Linked DNA regions of Homo sapiens. The protein of the gene in region 4 purifies or fractionates together with the protein of the main gene of each other region. This does not show direct contact. Each region holds a gene or a part of one and is shown on either strand. Other genes may lie near its edges.

What was found.
Region 1: the proteins of FAM184A (region 4) and OFD1 purify together in Homo sapiens (affinity purification with mass spectrometry, with the first as the bait; one large-scale study listed by BioGRID). This does not show direct contact.
Region 2: the proteins of FAM184A (region 4) and SRM purify together in Homo sapiens (affinity purification with mass spectrometry, with the first as the bait; one large-scale study listed by BioGRID). This does not show direct contact.
Region 3: the proteins of FAM184A (region 4) and SPICE1 purify together in Homo sapiens (affinity purification with mass spectrometry, with the first as the bait; one large-scale study listed by BioGRID). This does not show direct contact.

Annotation. Positions count from the first base shown.
Region 1 is NC_000023.11:13,762,248-13,765,747, forward strand, and holds part of OFD1 (centriole and centriolar satellite protein OFD1), read left to right. Parts: intron 1-96; coding exon 97-197; intron 198-1,468; coding exon of another isoform or gene 1,469-1,470; exon of another isoform or gene 1,471-1,497; coding exon 1,498-1,608; exon of another isoform or gene 1,609-1,612; intron 1,613-3,500. UniProt on the Homo sapiens protein: Component of the centrioles controlling mother and daughter centrioles length. Recruits to the centriole IFT88 and centriole distal appendage-specific proteins including CEP164. Involved in the biogenesis of the cilium, a centriole-associated function.
Region 2 is NC_000001.11:11,057,219-11,061,345, reverse strand, and holds the start of SRM (spermidine synthase), read left to right. Parts: upstream 1-1,327; 5' UTR 1,328-1,402; coding exon 1,403-1,569; intron 1,570-2,000; coding exon 2,001-2,121; intron 2,122-2,453; coding exon 2,454-2,546; intron 2,547-4,127. UniProt on the Homo sapiens protein: Catalyzes the production of spermidine from putrescine and decarboxylated S-adenosylmethionine (dcSAM). Has a strong preference for putrescine as substrate, and has very low activity towards 1,3-diaminopropane. Has extremely low activity towards spermidine.
Region 3 is NC_000003.12:113,452,657-113,456,156, reverse strand, and holds part of SPICE1 (spindle and centriole-associated protein 1), read left to right. Parts: intron 1-2,206; coding exon 2,207-2,691; intron 2,692-3,500.
Region 4 is NC_000006.12:118,961,464-118,963,664, reverse strand, and holds part of FAM184A (protein FAM184A), read left to right. Parts: intron 1-1,701; coding exon 1,702-1,904; intron 1,905-2,201.

The DNA.
Region 1 (3,500 bases), on a different chromosome or scaffold from region 4:
TAGAGCCTTTTCTTGAGTCACAAAAGGCTTTTTGTCACCTTGTACTCTTTGGTTTTCCATTATTGAAACTTCACGAGTTTTATCCTTCCAATCTAGTCTTTATCGAAGACAAACTGAACTTCAAGACAAAAGTGAATTTTCAGATGTGGACAAGCTAGCTTTTAAGGATAATGAGGAGTTTGAATCATCTTTTGAATGTAAGTTCAAATATAAATACCAGTTTTTATATGTTGAAAATCTAGAAAGCTTAGTTTTGGTGAAACGTATCCATTGGTTTAAAAAGAAAAGCAGTTACAAATTGGGTCATTATTATTTTGTGATACAACCACAAGTACAGATGTATCACCTCATTTTTCTACCATGATGATTTTCATGTGTGTGTTTACTTTTTAAAAATTTCAGTATGACTAATAATTTCAGAGTTTGAGCTAAGCTTATAAATGAATTATTAACTTATCAGATTTTAAATAAGTGATTTTTATTTATTTTTTCCTTTGATGGAATACAAGAATGTTTATTTTTATTTTTTTGAGATGGAGTCTCTCTCTGTTGCCCAGGCTGGAGTACAGTGGTCCGATCTTGGCTCACTGCAATCTCCCTCCTCCTCCCAGGTCCAAGTGATTCATCTGCCTCAGCCTCCCGAGTAGCTGGGACCAACCACAGGTGCATGCCATCACACCCAGCTAGTTTTTTTGTATTTTTAGTAGAGATGGGGTTTCACCATATTGGCCAGGCTGGTCTTGAGCTCCTGACCTCAAGTGATCCGCCTGCATCGGCCTCCCAAAATGCTGGGATAACAGGCATGAGCCACTGCGCCCGGCCTAAGGATGTTATTTTTTAAATATACTGATTCAGTTGATTGCCTCAGATTTAGAAAACCTCATTTTTAGTAAAAGAATAGAGATAAAAGAATATTAAGAGTCCAGAAACTGGTGTCCTGGCTATGGCCCTGCCTTAGACTGTCTTACTTTGTAGCCACTTTGTAAGTGTAAAATAAGCATGTAGAGCCTATCATCTCTAAGGTTCTTTCCAGCTTGAGAAATCTTTATATTTGCATATAAGCTATTGGTTAGCCTTGTAAACTTCATCTTCAAATCTGAAAGTGTTAATATTTTGAACAGTTAAATGAGAGGGCTTGGTAAATTTTGTAAATATTTGTTAAAGTCTTTGTGTTAAATCATTGATATTTTAATAGAATTCAAATGATGATCAGCAAGCCAATTGAATTCTTCACTGTCACTGGGTTGATTTTCCTGTTGGGTAACGAATCTCATTTTGTAAACAAAGTTAATTCTTTCAACTACGAGAACACTCTGACAAGCAAATACGTTGCCAAGTGGTTATGTTGGGAACTTCATAGAATCCTGTTAGGAAAGGGCGCACCCAGTTACTTTGGCTTCAGTTCCCGTGCTCCAGTCAGTTGCCCCCACACTGCACTGCCCTTCTTTGTCTTGGTGTTATTATTAAGGACTCATGGGACAATTGTGCCTCATGCAGCTGCAGGGAACATGCCAAGGCAGTTGGAAATGGGCGGGCTTTCTCCTGCCGGGGATATGTCTCATGTGGACGCTGCTGCAGCTGCTGTGCCCCTCTCATATCAGCACCCAAGTAAGTTCTTTTTTTGAACTAACAGTCAGCAGGGTCGCATACTAAATACCAGTCCGTGTGCTCTGTGAATTATTTCATGTATCACTGAAGTCATCTTGTAGGTGTAAATTAGTCAAAATCTTGGGTTGGGGGTTATAGGTGTCATTATATTGTTAATGACATTTCTGAAGTAATTCCCATGTGAACATGTAAAGACAGTGCTGAGAAAGGACACGTTGGAAGGAAAGGCTTCTCATTTAGGCTTCCCAGGCCAGTTGCTTAAAAAGTGTTTTCATTTACTCTTCAGTGCCTGGCATAGTAGTTGGACTTTTCCCCAAGACTCTTCTGCAAAAACTGTTCCTTGGGAACCTTAAAGTTTGGGAAATCACAGTGAAAAATTGAAATAATAATTAACTCCCAGCATATATCTTTAATATGATTGTAACATTTAAATATTATTTATTTTTCTATCTACTTGTTTCCTTTGTGTCTTAAGAAATTAGGACAGAAAAACTTCGTATTTCAATCTTTGGAAAAGCTGTGACACCGAGTTAGCGTAGCACTGGAGGAAAACTGGCCATCAGACTTCTCTTCTCTGGCCCACTTCCTCTTTTTCCTCTTCTCCTCCAGATTACCCACTTCCCTCCCTGCGGGTGGAGGGAGACGGGAAGAGAGCCGTGGGAGCTTTGTGCTTTGTTCCAGGGCTCAGCCAACAGCCAGGTCCTTTTCTTCTTGGACCAAGTGTTTAATCCTCAAATCTGAAAGGAATTTTCTCAAGTAAAGCCACCTCTTAGTCCCTCCCAAACGTTGGAAAAACATCATACCCAAAACCCCTGTTAGCAGTTTCTTGGTTTTAGTCATGGTACCCAGGAACATATAAAATAACTGAAAGAGGCAAGAGATTTTGAGAGGGTTGATGTTGCTGATTCCAGAGTAAATCTGCTTTGGAAAGCATTCAGTGAGACATGATCTAGAGCCTTGTCTCTGCTGGGCACTTTGCTCAGCGCTGAGCATATAGCTCAAGCCCTCGCCTTCCTGGATTTCTAGCAGGGGAGGCAGATGGTCAGCAGGCCATCACCCAGGACCGCAGCAGGGAGGGGCTGCAGCAGCTGAGTAGGGGCCGTGGCCACAAGAGGGAGTGTCTACAGGCACTCATTTGGCACAGACCTGAGCGAGGGAATACAAATAATGTGATAGGATAAGGGAAATCAACTGAGTAACTAGGTGTTCTGCTGCTGAGATGGAACATAGATTATAATATTTGCTTTAAAAATTATTAAGCAGCATGGCGAGTGACATTTTAGTTATTGAGAAATTGTTATATTTGTCATTTCATCTCTTCATCTGGGCACAAAGGGAATTCAAAAAGGTTGAAATTTGGTGTCTCGGAGGTGCCCCGTGGACATGCTTCCTTCCTTTCCCCTTGTGTCCAAGAGATTTCTGTATACCACCCTGCAGCTACAAAATATACACCAGAGTAGAGAAGCAGCTCACTCTTCCTCTTTATTTTGTAATTGGTGCTTAAACAACATTCCTATTTTGAGATTACTATTCCATATAAGAAAGCAATCTTGTTTAGGAGTAACTATTTTTTCTTCTCTAGCAAGGAGGAAGTTGCATTTCTGCCTGTGGAAATGATCAGCTGTCTCCTCTGGTATTTTAATTTCATGAGAAGGATTCAGAAGAGATGGGGGAGAGAGAGAAGAAACTGTGTTGCTTCTCTCCTATTAGTAAAACTCAGTTCCTGCTGATCACTTTAGAACAAGGCACAGCAAAAAGGTTCAAAGTCCTCTGCTGAACCTATGAATTTTTCTACTTATTAGCATTGCTTGGGTTGAAAAAAAAAATGTAGGTTATGGGTCAGAGCCAGAAGAGAAAGGTCAGCATAATTGTCTCTGGGATTGGGGTCTAAT
Region 2 (4,127 bases), on a different chromosome or scaffold from region 4:
CTGGGACTGCAGGCGCGCACTACCATGCCCAGCTAATTTTTGTATTTTTAGTACAGACGGGGTTTCACCATGTTGGCCAGGATCGTCTTGATCTCTTGACCTCGTGATCCGCCCGCCTCCGCCTCCGCCTCCCACAGTGCTGGGATTACCGGGGTGAACCATCACGCCCAGGCACCTAGCAATTCTTTAGCGGTCTTGGTTTACCTCCCCTTTAGAAGGAGCTTAAAAGCAAGCAAGGCACATTGTTGCCTAGGCTTGAGGCTTGCTCTCACCCATAAACAACGCTGTTACTCTGCTCTGGGGACGACACAGGAAACGTTCCCCACCTCCAGGTGGAGGCTGCAAAACGTGTCAAAACCATCCCTGACATAATGTCAAGAGTAGCTTATACTAGTTTCATCTTCCTTCCTTGGCATTCGAACTGCGTGTGGAACAATTAGCATTTAATATTTGGTAATTAGCATGCTTAATGTGATTCTGAGAAGTTCTTTGACATTCTCATAAAAACAGCACATTCCCACCCACCCTTCAAAGAGCAAGACCCAGTTTGTCAAGAAAAATTGCGTGCCAGTCTTTTCTGGTGCTGAATATGTATGTTCTGGGCCTCTTCCTGGACACTGCTGGTAAATTTAGAAACTCGTTTAGAAAAGCACTTCTCTCGTATTCAACAGCCTATAGGCTCATGGCGCAGAATCTAAGGGAAAATGGCTAAATCCAGCTTGTGAATTCGCGGGCTGTGATGATTCTTTCCAAGTAAATAAAAACCCTCGGTTCGCCCCGACGAGCCACATAATCTGTTCAAATCCAACAAGGAACCAGATTTTGGACGCAAAGAAGGATACGTTCTACTCGCCCCGTGCAACAACGTAAACCACTGTAGCCACCCGCTCCCGTGTCTCCAGCCCAAAGGCTGACTCTCCAGTCCGCACGTCGCAGCGCTCTTGCCCTCCACACCAAGCCCGAGTCCCGCAGCCCCTCGAGGCCCTCGGTGCCTCCCAACCCCGAGAAGGAAGCGGGGGCCGGTGGTGCACCGCCCCGGCTGCTTGGGGCGGAGGAAGGACCCGGACCCCTTCCGCCGGCCCAGCCCGCCCCGGAACCCGACCCGGCCGCCCGGCCCCGGCCGGGCCCCACGTGGCCCCTGGAGCGGGCCGCACTACCCTGCTGCCGCCGACGGACGGCGCGCCACAGCCACTCTGCGCCGCTCTGCGAGCCGGTGGCCAATGAGCGCCAGGCGAGGCCGCTTTGCCATTGGCGAGCGCGGGCTCCGCCCCCGCCGGCAGGCCCCGCCCCGCGCCCGGGTTAGGTTGCGGCGCGGGCGGCGGGCGGAGCTGGTCCCGTTGTGCTGCGGCGCCGCGCGGCCTGCAGTCCCGGGCCCGCGCCCCGCGCCGCCCGCCCGCCCGCCATGGAGCCCGGCCCCGACGGCCCCGCCGCCTCCGGCCCCGCCGCCATCCGCGAGGGCTGGTTCCGCGAGACCTGCAGCCTGTGGCCCGGCCAGGCCCTGTCACTGCAGGTGGAGCAGCTGCTCCACCACCGGCGCTCGCGCTACCAGGACATCCTCGTCTTCCGCAGGTACCGCCGCTGCCCGCAGGCGCCTGCCCCCTAGGCTCAGCCCGGGCCGCCTGCTGCCCGCCTCACGGGCCTCTCCACGCCGGGACCCAAGCGGGCTGGACCTCGTCCTGCCCTGGCCCCCTCGCCACCCCTCACACCGCCTCCCTGGGCTGGGGCTGGGACTGCGGGCTGGCCTCTTGGGTGGGGGAGTCGGAGTCTGCGCCCCGCTCCACGTGTCAGCCCTCAGGACACGTCAGAGCCCGAGGAGACCCCGGGTCCCACCCCGGCCTCCACCCGGCGGCCCGCCTGCCGTTCCTCGCCACGTGTCACCATCGCTCCTCATCCCTGGGACCCCTAGGCGGGATGGGGAGACCCTCCTCACCCAGGGCGGCTTGGGGTACGTTTTCCCCACCCCAGAGAACCCAGGTCCCCGACTGTCACTCCGCCCGCAGTAAGACCTATGGCAACGTGCTGGTGTTGGACGGTGTCATCCAGTGCACGGAGAGAGACGAGTTCTCCTACCAGGAGATGATCGCCAACCTGCCTCTCTGCAGCCACCCCAACCCGCGAAAGGTACCCCAGTGTCCCCTGGAACAGTGCCGGACGAGGGGCGGCCCCAGGTGTGCTCCGGGCTCTTCCCAGATGCTGCCTGCATGGTTGTCAGAGAAAGTGCTAGCGAGGCCAGGGGCGTCCCGCGGAGGGGTGGGGGCCGACACTGACGCGGCCTCGGAATCCTAGGGCAGCCCTGGAAGGAACTTCCAGGAAAGGGGACACCGGCACGAAAGCGTTTCCGAGGGTAGAAAAAGATGAGGCCCGTGGGTCCGAGGGGTCAGGGGGTCTGCTTCAGGGGCCTGGGGGCTCCCAGTCCTGCCAGGGCCCCTGCCTTGACTGCCCCCTCCTCCCAGGTGCTGATCATCGGGGGCGGAGATGGAGGTGTCCTGCGGGAGGTGGTGAAGCACCCCTCCGTGGAGTCCGTGGTCCAGTGTGAGATCGACGAGGTGAGTGCCGGCGTAGAGCCAGGTTTGAGTCCTGGTTCTCCCAGCGGCCAGCTGTGCCCTGAAATGGCTGCACACCCCCGAGCAAGGCAGGTAGGGCCTGTTTCTCCATCTGGAAAACACCTGGTCGGGGAGGGTTCAGTAGGAAAACCAGATGGCAGAGGGCCTGGCAGGTGGTGAGGGCACCTGCGTGGCGAGCTCTTACTAAAACTGAGCTGATTTTTTTTTTTTTTTTTTTTTTGAGACAGAGTTTCGCTCTTGTTGCCCAGGCTGGAGTGTGATGGTGCGATCTCGGCTCACTGCAACCTCCACCTCCTGGGCTCAAGTAGTTCTTCTGCCTCAGCCTCCGGAGTAGCTGGGATTACAGACATGCGCTACCATGCCCGGCTAATTTTGTATTTTTAGTAGAGACAGGGTTTCTCCATGTTGGTCAGGCTGGTCTCGGACCTGGCGACCACAGGTGATCCGCCAGCCTCGTCCTCCCAAAGTACTGGGATTACAGGCGTGAGCCACCACGCCCAGCCGACTAAGCTGATTTTTAATCTGAGCCCCAGGCAGGGCCCCAAGACAGCTCAACTATTTGTACGTTACCCCTTACACTCAGTAGCTGCTCACTAAAATCATGCTACGTGCCAGGTGTTGCCCGGGTATGGGGACAGTGGTAGACGACAGATCAGTCCCTGCCCTCTAGGAGCTGATGTCCTAGTTAAAGGAGACATCAGATGGCCAGACGTGGTGGCTCACACCTGTAATCCCAGCACTTTGGGACGCCAAGGCGGGCAGATCACCTGAGGTCAGGAGTTCAAGAGCAGCCTGGCCAACCTGGTGAAACCCCATTTCTACTAAAAATACAAAAATTAGCCGGGCATGGTAGTGCATGTCTGTAAACCCAGCTACTAGGGAGGCTGAGGTGGAAGAATTACTTGAGCCCGGGAGGCGGAAGTTGCAATGAACCGAGATCTCGCCACTGCACTCCAGCCTGGGTGACAGAGGAAGAATCTGTCTCAAAAAAAACAAACAACAAAAATAGAGACATCAAAGGATGGTCTGATGAAGGCAAGACAGGGGCTGGGGGACAGGAGAAGGCAGGGTTCCTGTGAATGCATGGGGGGTGGTCAGGGCAGGCCTCCAGGAGGTGGCGTTTGAGCTGAGACCTCAGTGAAAAGCAGGTGGCCGTGTGCAGGGAGGGGGAGGTTCTCCTGGCCAGAGGTTGGAATTGCATCCTTCTAAAATAGGAAACAGGCCAAGCGCTGGTGGCTCACACCTGTAATCTCAGCACTCTGGGAGGCTGAGGCGGGCAGATCACAAGGTCTCTACTAAAAATAAAAAAAAAAAAAAAAAAATGGCCCAGCTTGGTGGCGTGCGCCTGTAATCCCAACTACTCGGGAGGCTGAGGCAGGAGGGTGCAGTGAGCTGAGATCGTGCCACTGCACTCCAGCCTGGGCAGCAGAGCAAGACTGTCTCGAAAAATAAATAAAATAGGAAGCGACAAGAAAGCCACTCAGATGGGGCGATTTGGTCTGGAAGGAGGGGGTAGGGATGGGAGAGAGGAGCCCAAGCCGCCGGCAGGAGCCAGCTCTCAAG
Region 3 (3,500 bases), on a different chromosome or scaffold from region 4:
GTTTTGGTATTTATAATGCAGATGTAGCATTTGTCAGATCAGTATGGTGCAATGGTGACAGTGCCAGGCTGAGAGTCAGACGTGCTGGTATCTTGGCCCGTTTATTGTTGACTAGCTGTGAGGCATGAGGCTCAGATAGTTTACCTTTTCTAGACCTAAGTTTTTCCATCTATGAAATGAGAAGATATTTCTTTATCTTTAATGTTCCCTCCAGCTCTATCATTGTATGATTCAGTATTTCCTCTTCAGAGGGCTTCAGTTACAATAAATATGTTTACTCTGATCACAACCGTACTAAATGCTTGTTAAAGCAAATTTGTCAGGGATTGCTATAGACAACATTTTGTTAATATCTTCAGCAAGTTTGTATTTAAAATAACTGCCCATTTATTTTATAATGTGCAGACAGCTGCTTGTGAATATGTATTTGAATTGGTGATGTTTTATTATATTTTTCAAGCATTGTTTGGAATACTCACATATAAAGAATTATTCAGTTAAACAGAATATGCAGATGAAAATGGGTGATACATAGGGCCCTTCATCAGCATTCAGTTCTCTTTTAGGATAGCTTTGTCTAATAGAATTTTCTGGGTTGATGAAAATGTTCTGTGTCTGCTCCATCCAGAATGGTGGCCACTGGCTGCATGGGGCTAGTGAGCACCTGATATGTGGCTTATGTGACTGAGAAACTGAATTTTAAATTTTATTTAATTTTAATTAACTTAAATTTGAATAGCCACATATAGCTAGAGGCTGCCATATTGGACACTATTGCTGTAGAATTTCCCATCATAAATATTTTCCTCTAGCTATTGATTTATTTCTGCTTTTCTTTACAGCCATGCTTCTTGAACGAGTAGTGGGTGTGTGTGTCTGTGTGTATTGGTGTGCAGTTTCATTTCATTTTCTGATCTCCCATTCATCCTTTATTTTAAAGCGTTCATTCGAATTCATATTTGTATATGGTTTTTTAAAAAGTACTGTCAATTTAACCCAGAGAAAGGCTCTCTAAAAGAAACTGATATTTATTTGAGATTGAGAATTGCAATGGGAATATGGTGGGCATATTCAGGGAAGTAAAGGAAGACAAGAGTTTTTAAAGGGGAAATGAGGAGGATTATTTAAGTTGTTTTGAGATAACTATCCTTGGCTACAAGGATCAATAACAAGGGTGGCATCAGTCTAAGGTTGGATAGGCAGATGTTGGGCAAATGTCCTCGCAGAATTATTTTTTGTGTAAGATTGTGGTGTCCTTTGTGCAAGGTTCTGGTTTTTGAAGTCTCTTGAACAGTTCTTGTTATCAGTCATACATGCCTGAGAACCCTTCCTTCCTGGCTTTTTAAGGCTCCACTTATCAGTCACTTGTGTCTGATAAAGTGACTCTGATAAAGTCACTTGCGCTCTGACACAAATGTCTGATTTTTTTTTTTTTCCTTTGAGATGGAGTTTCGCTCTTGTCACCCAGGCTGGAGTGCAATGGTGCAATCTCAGCTCACTGCAACCTCTGCCTCCTGGGTTCAAGCTATTCTCCTGCCTCAGCCTCCTGAGTAGCTGGGATTACAGCCGTGCACCATCATGGCTGGCTAGTTTTTAAAATATGTATTATTAGTATAGACTGAGTTTCACTATGTTGGCCAGGCTGATCTCGAACTCCTGACCTGAGGTGATCTGCCGACCTTGGCCTTGCAAAGTGCGGGTATTATAGGAGTGAGCCACCGCGCCCGGCCAAATGACTCCATTTTGATTCTGACAGCTTTCACAGTACATACCCCTAAAGGCAGTCATTTTCTGCCTGTAATGTCCTTTGCTCAGTTCCTATTACATATGTAATCATTTAAAAATTTTACTTCCTCAGAGAGGCCTTTCCTGGTTATCTGCTGTTTAAATTGGGTACTTATACCCACTTCCTCATTCCCCAAGATTCCCAGATGTGAGTTAATATATGCGTTAAAATGTGAACTTGACAGATGGTTTTTCACAAGGGTACTAACAAATGCTTTAAGGAATGTAAAAAGTCTCTGTACTTGATTACGAGGGGCGGCATTGCTGGTGTGTTCTCTGCTGAAAATAGTTTAAGCATTCAGAAGCCAAACCCTTCTACTGAAATACTTTTCTAACTACCATGGTGGGCTAATGAAATGAGTATAGTGCCAATCTATGGGAAAATAATACATATTTGTTATTTTTAAATTCTTATCTATAGTATTGAGAAGGACTGTTCAAACTCGTCCTGCTCCACGACTTCCTCCAACTGTGGAAATAATTGAGAAGGAACAAAATTGGGAAGAGAAGACCTTACCTATTGATACAGACATTCAGAATTCAAGTGAAGAGAATCGTCTCTTCACTCAGAGATGGAGAGTCTCTCACATGGGAGAAGATTTGGAGAACAAAACTCAGGCTCCTTTTGTTAACCTCTCACAGCCCCTCTGCAATTCCCATTCCAACACTCAACAGTCAAGAAGCCCCACATTCTCAGAAGAGCTCCCAGTACTGGGAGATGGGCAGCAGCTGAGAACAAATGAGTCATTAATACAAAGAAAGGACATAATGACACGAATTGCTGATTTGACATTGCAGAATTCAGCTATCAAGGCACATATGAATAATATTATTGAGCCCAGAGGAGAGCAAGGGGATGGACTCCGGGAGTTGAACAAACAAGAAAGTGCAAGTGACATGACTTCTGTGAGTACCATTTAAGGATTGATTAGGGACATATAGGAATTTAAATAGGAACTTTAGCTTGGGCAACTTAAGAAACTTCTTTTCAGAAGTGATCCTAGAAAGCTTTGAGGCTAGATGGCTTATGTTTGGCATGTCCTCAATACAATAGGTCCAAGTTATTTATCAGTCTGTTGTACATACAATACAAGACAGCATAAAAGGGAAATTATATAAATGAAAATAGGACAAAGATAAAATGCGTAGGAAAGCTAAGATTAAGTTAGGAATGAAGTTTTAGGTATAAAATATAGAATTAATGTTACTTGAATGTTTGCCACACAGCCACATGTTAATTGAAAATATTTTTATTTTTAAAATGGCTCATAAAAGAGTATTGGCCCTCAACTCATGAGTAGTTAATTTTTGAGGACATAGAATGGATTTTCCTATAGAAATGAGGTGGTTTTTTTGTTTTGTTTTGTGTGTTGTTTGTTTGTTTTGTTTTTTTTGAGACGGAGTCTTGCTCTGTTGCCCAAGCTGGAGTGCAGTGGCATGATCTCGGCTCACTGCAACCTCTGCCTCCCGGGTTCAAGTGATTCTCCTGCCTCAGCCTCCTAAGTAGCTGGGATTACAGGCATGCACCACCACACCTGGCTAATTTTTGTATTTTTAGTAGAGACGGGGTTTCACCATGTTGGTCAGGCTAGTCTTGAATTCCTGACCTCGTGATCTGCCCGCCTCAGCCTCCCAAAGTGCTGGAATTACAGGCATGAGCCACTGCGCCCAGCCTGTTTTGTTTTTTTGAGATGGAGTCTCACTCTGTTGCTCAG
Region 4 (2,201 bases):
AGTTTCACGTCATGCCTAATTTTTATTAGGACTTTACCCAGAAATTTTCCTTTCCTTTCACAGCTCGTAAAACTTCTCTATTAAGAACACTGAATCTATCCTTCCTTTACAAGTTAAAGTGTTCCAAACTTTAAACTTGAATGTTTTCTAAAATAGAATGACTGTAGTGGCATGTAGCTGTATCTCAGAGTCTAAAATACTGCCTGGCAGATAGAAAGCTCTGAGTAAATAATTGGTGAATGAATAATTATAATTAGTTTTAGTTTTTTAATTCATAATTTAGGGTGAAATAAGATTTTAATTATAAAGCAAGATTATGAGGTTTGTGGAAAAAAAGATATACTAAAAATACTCCTTTTCATTTATTTATTTTATTGGAATTAAATTTTTTAGCTGCAAAATGATTACTGTAGAACTTTACCAGTATTCTTTTGATTTCTTAAAATAGAAACCTTAAGTAGGTTTAATTATGCCCTCTGGTGACTAGAATAAGAAAATGCAAAAGATACATCTTTGTAAGAACTTTCAAACTACTTTTGACTCCTAATAGTGACTTTAGTTTTCACAAATAGTTCTGAGGAAGGTATTATTATTATTTTCTTTTTCTGGTTATGCTAAAATAGGATTTTCATCAGAGACTCTACAAGTCACAGAATATGACAGAGGAAAATGTTTAGACAATGAGATAAATAAAAATAAAAGTTCCATCTTGTATATTAATTGCATTTTTTCCCAAACTCGAGTTATTTCCCTAAAAAGCTTACAAATTTAATTGGTATACATCTAATTAGTAAAATATGAGAATATTCTAAATATCTAGTAACATGTTAATTTTTATTTCTCATAGCAAGATGATGATCATTGATTCTAGAGATGTGAATAAAATACTTTGAGACTAAAGTTAGTGAATTGCAAGCTGATAGATTTTGATAATCTGCAGTGGAATTTGTCTTTTTATCTCTTAATTTTAAAGACACATTAAAAAATCAGCTGATTACTATTGTTTTGTAACCTTTAAAGTTTAAAAAATATGAGCCAATTAATGATACTGCCAAGTAATATGGAAATTAGACTTAATTATGCAGATATAACTTTCTCTCTTCAGAAAGATAGATGTCACAGTGAATTTAAAACCAGATTATTTCTCTTAAGTCAGCTTTAGGTCTTTAGTAGAAATGTGCAATTTGTTTCAAACTACATTGCCAAGCATTTTCTCATTCCTTTTTTTTTTTCCAGGCAAGAACTGCCTCCCTTTGACAGATGGCTAAATTTCATGGACTCTCTTTTAAAATTATGTTTAACTTTACCCCTTCTCCTAATTTTAGCCTAAATCCATTTAACCTTCTATCTGCAAGACTTGCTCTCTCCCCTAATCCTTTTTCCCTTTTCTTCCCAAAAGGGTATTCTTTACCCCTTGGCACTCTTTTTACCTTCTCTCTCATTCCTCGTGAATGACTCCTAAATGTTTCTTCCTCATTCTTTCTGCCCTGGTAGCATGTCTGTCTTTGAGGATTCCATGTAGATAAAAAATACCTCCAAGGATTCCCAGACCACAGTTTGGGTAACACTGGTTAATTAACATTTTAATTTAACATAAAGCTTCCAAAATTTTCCCATGCCAAATTTCTATCTTCTACCATTCCTATTTTCTCATTTGTCCTCATGCAGGGACTATCCTCACATGTATTATTTTTAATGCAGCAAAAGAAGAAGAATGATAAATCACCAACAAACAGGTTTGTGAGTGTTCCCAATCTAAGTGCTCTGGAATCTGGTGGAGTGGGCAATGGACATCCTAACCGCCTGGATCCCATTCCTAATTCTCCAGTCCACGATATTGAGTTCAACAGCAGCAAACCACTTCCACAGCCAGTGCCACCTAAAGGGCCCAAGACATTTTTGAGGTGAGACCCGTCTCACCAATGTTTTTTTCTTTTCTTTTTTAACTTGAGAAATTTACCTTCTTACATTGCAGAAATCACTACTTTAAGAACAACCTAAGAAAAATTACTATGAAATATTTTCTTCAAAGTATATTTATCCCCTCTCTAGAGAACTTCCTTTTGACTGTGTTAAAAAGATTTTTTCTAATTTGTGGTCATCAGTCAATTTTCTAAGTACTTGAAGAGGTGTTAATGTAATTTATATCATTAGAATTTTAATATTATGCACAATTACTTTATTTTTAGTATTGTCACCAA